Linked DNA regions of Homo sapiens: region 2 is linked to region 1. The links come from fine-mapping of genetic effects on gene expression. A gene starts in region 1. The other region holds a variant in brackets. All regions are shown on one strand. Distances are between the middles of the regions.

Region 1 (2,895 bases):
AACGTAGTATTGTAGGTTAAAAAAATGACTGTGTTACTTTACTATAAACGTGTTTGAGAATTTTACTTACGATATAGGCGCTCAGAAAACCAATACCTCTCCAACTGGGTACAACCAGTCCCACATTTTTTCATAAGTCATGATGCTTACCTCCCAAAAAGCCAATTTTTAAAAATCAGAATTCAGCATCCCCTCCTATTCAGATTATAGGTAAAGGGAAGGGTCGGTAGGACGATGGCAAATCTAATGGCCAATGTCTTTCTAGGCGAAAGCATCCTTAAGGGCAGGACAAAGACACCACCACTACAAACGAACCTCGTTCAACCTTCAGAACACGGAGAACAAACCAGTTAAAGCAAAACGAACCAACATTGCAGATACGGGAAAAGGGAATTCCTAAGATGGCTCTCCAAATCCGTGCACTCGGCACCTTTCCTCAGTACAACCGCGAAGGCTACGGGAATGCGCCTGCAGAGTGTGGGAACTCCGGGCGCGGGTGCCCACCCCGCCGACTCCCAGGGCGACCCCAGAACGTTCGTTTCAGGCGGGTCACAGCTGCGCCACCCACCAGACCTGTGCCCCAGCGTCCGACCGCGCACCTGAGAGGACCGAGGAGATGACCGGCCCCAAATGCATCTGCTTCTCCCCGCGGCCGCGGAGGCCGAGCAGGAAGGGCCCGCAGGCGGCCCCGGCCCCGCGCTGACAGCCCGGCGCCGCCCCCACCTGCCCGCCTGGGGGGCGCCGCGGCCGGGCGCGCCCGCCCAGCCACTTCCTTCCCCGCCCGCCCGGCCTCGCACCGGCCCGCGGGGGCTGGGAGCCGCGGGAGGAAGGAGGTTTGGCCAGCGGCCCGCGGAGGAAGCCGCCGCCACCTCCCGCCCGCCCTCACCCACCGGCATCATCGCGGGGAGAGTCCGCGACGCCCTCGGCCGCCGCCTGACAGGACGCTCCGCGCCGAGCTGTGCCCACCGCTCCGGCCGCCTCCTAAGGCCGCGCTCCCGCCGCCGTGCTCTCCGGCCCGGCCGCGGCGAGGCGGCAGCTGCGGCGGGCTGCGGGGCTCTCGCTGGCCCTGTCGCGGCCGCCGGCGCGCTGCGTCGCTGTCCCGGGCACCCGGCCGCCGCCGCCGCCGCCTCAACCTCAGCCTCAGCCTCAGCCCCAGCCCGACAGCCTGCGGCCCGCCCGCCCGGCTCGCTCTTCAGCCCCCGCAGGCCCCGCCCCCAGCGCGACGCCCCGCACGGGTCCCGTAGCCCCCTCTGATTGGCCCGGTGGGAGCGGGGGCGGGGAGAGGGGCGGGGCTTCCCGGCTCCGCCCGCTACCCTCGCTCTCAGCGGCGGCCAGGTGCGTGCGCGTCCGCGCTCCCGGCGGCGGGGGAGGGGCGGACGCGCAGTGGGCACCGGTGGCCTCCCCCGCCCTTGCGTGAGCCCCGACTAGGGAAGACCGCGGACGGTGGGAGGACTGAGGCCCGACAGGGAAGGGCCGGCCCGGGTCCCGCAGCGGATCACGGCAGGGCCGGGACTCGAACCCGGGCTCCCGGGGGCCGACTGTGGGCCGGGAGCGTCCCTGCGGCGACGGCGCGCGCCCGCACTCTGACCGCGGCCTGACCCCCGGCTGCCGGCGCGCCGTGGGGCTGCGGCCCAGAGGCCAGTGGGAGGGGCGCGGGGGGCCCCCGGAGCGAGCATGTGACCCGAGGCCGCGCGCTCGGAACCAGCCCCGGCCCGACGCCCTTGGCTGGCACCTGCTTCTCCCCCACCGGCGTCTTCCGCGGCTCTCGGGGCCGCGCCCCCCGCACCAGCTCCCGAGCCTTGGCCTTCGCCCGAGCGATCTCCCGCCTAGAACCCCGCGCCCACCTGTGCCACCTGTGCCCACCTGCGCCAGCATCCCTCGAGGTCCAGCTCCAGCGTCCCCGGGGAGGGTCCGGTCCTCGTCTCCAGGGCCTGGGTCTCTCCCTGCAGTCCCGTCTCCAGAGGCGCCGCCCCCTCGGGCCTGAGCGCCGGAGTGACAGAGCCCTGGGCAGGGCCCTGAGCAGACCCTCAGTAAAGGCTGCCAGGGGGGTAGGCACCCGCTCGGGGCCCCCCACATGGTGCCATTCGCCCGGACCGCGGCGGAGAGCAGACAGGGGGACTGAGGTGCTCCCCGCGGCAGCACCGAACTCCCACGGGCATCAGAAGGCAAGGTCTGCGGATGGCCCCAGACACAGAAGGCGTAAGCCGCCCTGGGAAGCGCCGGCCCAGTGGAGAAGGCCGCCGCGAGGTCAGGGTCAGTCTGGAGCCTGTCTGGTTCTCGGAGAGGCTTCTGGCTGCTGCAGAGTGGGGGCAGAGCAAGGGAGGAGGCCAGGGAGCTCCCACCAGCCCATTCCTGGGGAGCCACCCCTGTCCCTCAGAGGCCACGGGGGCTCGTGTTTGCGAGTGTGGACTTTCCAGTTAGACAGACTTGGTTCAGCACCGCCTCCGCCACACCCTCGCCTGGGATCCTAAACAAGCCGCATCTTCTCTGCATCGTAGTGTGCTTGTCTCTGTGATGGGAGAGTGTAGGGATAATAGTGCCTGCCTCGTGTCAAGAGGCTTTTTCGGATGCGAGGGATGGAAAGCGCCCAGCACAATTTGTGGCACGTGGTAGCTGTTCCATAAATAGCATTCTGTAGTTGGGCCGTGATTAGCAAGGAGGCTTAGTGTACAGACGTCCCTGGGATTTTTAAACCTATCCACACCTGGGCATGAATGGCTAATGACACCCCTCTTCTGGGAGCAGAGTTTGGAGAGAAGAGGAGGCTCTAGATAATGAGTGATCCTAGGCTGAAAGTCAGAGACATACTTAAGTTCTAATTCTAGCTGCTCTGCTTCTGACCTCCTGTGGGGCCTTAGGCAACTTGCACTCCTTCTCTGGGCCTTGGTTTCCCCA
Region 2 (2,895 bases), 51 kb after region 1:
CACCCATGGAAATAAACACTTCCCCTGGATAGTTACTCCTGGGACTCGAGTGTAATATGGGGTGTACGTTACTCTTTAACAGGTGACTCCATCCAGGTCATAAAGCTCTTCTGAACTAAGTTCCTGGAAGATAGGCGTTACCACCTCCAGCCCGGGTGTTTATTAACCACTCCCACGGTGGCCACGGAGCAGCCAGGGGTAGTTGTTGCCAGGACGCTGGGCTCACCTTCTGAACTTTGTCCTGAGAACCAGAGCATGGCGGGCCACCCTCATCAGCTTTCCCCAAACCAGCAGGGAGTTGGCACAAGACCAGGGGCTTGGCAAGGGTTGCTTTCCTCTGCTGCAGTGAGGAGCCTCCGTTTAATCCCCACCTCCCCCCTCTGCAGCCACTTTGAAAGAACTGGAGTGAACACAGGCTCCTGGCAGGGAGGAGGTGTCTAAATCACCAGGCTGGCCTCTGGCACCGAGGCCCAAAGCACTCTCACCGCCATTGCCACCCAAACCTGGACTTCCAGACCAGGGCCGCTGGGCTGACAACCATGTGTCAACCTTTAAAGATGAAATAAAACTGCATGAAACCGGGAGGTTTAAAAACCAAAATATAAGGGACCCAGATGGGCGTCTCAATGGTGGAGAGAGACAATGAGCAGAGCTGTGGGGAAGGAAACCCCTGAAACCCTGGCCTGTCACGCGGCATGGATCACCGGCGGACACCAGGCCCGAGGGCAGCTCGCGCATAGGCTGGCGGGAGACCTATAGGCTGGTGCCGAAGATGAGCCGGGCCAGTCAGATGTCCCATTCAGGTTTGGACCATAAACAGAAGAGGGAGGCTCCTTGGAGAAGGGAAATATGGCCAAAAGGTCGTGTGGGTGCCATGGGGCCCCACACAGCATCGTGACCCTAGTCAGGAGGAGCGGAGCAGCGTAGCAGGGAGCAGGCACGGGGAGGAGAGAGGACAGCTTGGAAATGGGTCAAGGAGGCCCCAGTGAGACACAGAGCCAAGATCTTCTAGGCCGCTCTGTGTCCAGGGCCAGCCACAGTTCTGGGATCCAGGAGTCCTGGGGCCCACAGTGTCTTCTTGGATCCCCAAAAGATACTGTGTCCCGACAGGGCCAACATGGGTAGATCTCAGCTTCTTTTGATCCCCCGTGAGAACATCTTAGAATGGGCGTCTGTGGATACTGGAGTCTGTTCTCCTTCCAGGCTCCATGGCTGCCTCGGTTCACAGGCTGGGAGATGAGGAGTGGAGTTGGGGCTGTCACTTGCATGAGACGAGGGTGGGCCTGTGTGGCGAGTATAGAATCAGTCAAACACTCACCTTCTGATGAACTTAGATCAACTTGTGTTGGCTCAACTGCTGGGCATGTTGGGACCTGAGAGTTGGGTAGGCATGTGGGGAGAGGTGGGTATAAGCCTGGCTCCTAAAGACAGTGGCAATCTGCCCAAG[G/A]GGGCTGGTGAGTGCAGGCACAGCTCAGGTGGGAAGGCACACCGGAAGGGTGTTCTGGTCAGCAGTGACAGCAGCTACATCTTTGTTTTGGTATATATATATGTATATGTACCATATATTGGAGATTGGAGGAGAGTCCCTCCCCTCCTGGAGAGAGGGGAGCATGGGGAGAAAGGAAGGATCTCTGAGGCCCAGCTTGATGCTCAGCTCAGGGCAGGAAAATAGCGGGGAAGCCCAGCCTCTTTGCCTGACACACATGGTGGAGAGGTGGAGGGAGACTGAGGCTGAGCCCAGCCTCCAGGTCTACCAGAAATTGAGTTTAAGACAAGACCAACTGCGCCCCAGGCACAGGTAGGGGTGGCTCCTTGAATGCTCCCAGCCATCATCAGGCCTGGAGCAGTGAGCACACAGCCGGGCCTCGCCTCCTGCAGCAGGGCAGGCAGGGCGGCAGGGGAGGGGAAGGGAGCCCAGCCCCAGGTATGCAGCCTCGGTCTGCGGCTGCTCTCCTCACGACACCTGGAAGCTGGGCCGGGGGGCTTTTCTTCTGAAGGTGGGTGCACCCTGTGCTGTATTTGGAGGAAAATTCAGCTGTGCTGACTGGGCAGAACTGCGGGTGGTTCAAGTCTTTGCAGAAGGCCTTGCTCCAGGCTTCCTTCAAAGGCAGGCTCTTTTAGGTCAGTGGGCTGCACTTGAGTATGCATCAGAATCTCCTGGAGGGCTCCTGAAACACAGGCCTGGGCCCTATCACGGAGGGCCCAAAGCAGGTCTTGGGTGGGGCCCAAGAACCTGCATTTATGACAGGTTCCCAGATGCTGCTGCTGTGGCCCCAGGAAACCCTTTGAGAACTGCCACTGCAGGCCATTTCGGTTGGAATTTGATTTGCAAACGTTCACATCTGCAGTTCCTCTTAGAAGGGAAGGCGCCTTCTCAAGCACAAGTGAAACAACTCTCTCCACCTGCTGGTGTGCTGGTGCTTGGGCTGCGGGGAAGGGATGTGTGTGTGAGGCAGAGGCCCTCAATTCCTCCGGGTGGGGTGGGGAGATGGCCTGGCAGTACCCATGGCTGGGGGCAGAGCTATCCTGTGGGCCTGGGGAGCCCGCCTGGGTGATGAGACGTGCTGGCACAGGCTCCGCAGCCGGCAGCGCCTCGTCACAGGGGTGGGCTTCAGAACTGCTTGGGCTGGCATGAGAGGCCGCGGGTGCTGGCTTCCCTGGAAAAGCCACTCAGCTTTGAGACCAGAGAGGAGATGCAGACACAAGCCTTCGTCTTCACCCCTTTTCGAAAGAGAGAAAGCCCGAATCTCAACAACAGAGTGTCTCTATCAGTCCCATGGTTGTCCTCAGCCTGGGGAGAGCCTGAGCCGGCCAGGACAGGCAGCTCTTCCATGTGGCTCCTTGCGGTCCCCACAGTAGTCGCTTTGTGGGGCAGGGAGAGGCGACGGGCATCCC

Direction of the effects. Positions count from the first base shown, and alleles are read on the strand shown. Sizes are in standard deviations (SD) of each study's normalised expression.
In carriers of allele G in region 2, the expression in esophagus mucosa of the gene that starts at base 1,167 in region 1 tends to be lower than with A alone (moderate effect, 0.46 SD a copy in GTEx).

The links. PIP is the estimated chance that this variant, and not a neighbour inherited with it, causes the effect.
Region 2: its variant is fine-mapped to the expression of PPP1R13B in esophagus mucosa (GTEx, PIP above 0.99). The same link has a PIP of 0.9 or more in nasal epithelium.

Annotation. Positions count from the first base shown.
Region 1 is chr14:103,846,409-103,849,303 of GRCh38, forward strand. PPP1R13B (protein phosphatase 1 regulatory subunit 13B) reads right to left here and starts at 1,167. Exons shown (of 17, transcript NM_015316.3): 1 at 891-1,167. The coding sequence starts at 899. PPP1R13B-DT (PPP1R13B divergent transcript) reads left to right here and starts at 1,313. Exons shown (of 3, transcript NR_038436.1): 1 at 1,313-1,335. RefSeq lists silencers at 677-876, 1,047-1,486, 1,507-1,636, 1,657-1,726.
Region 2 is chr14:103,897,015-103,899,909 of GRCh38, forward strand. No RefSeq gene overlaps it. Among named protein-coding and RNA genes, the nearest start is that of ATP5MJ, 23 kb to the right of the region's middle. The variant G/A (reference allele first, on the strand shown) is at 1,448.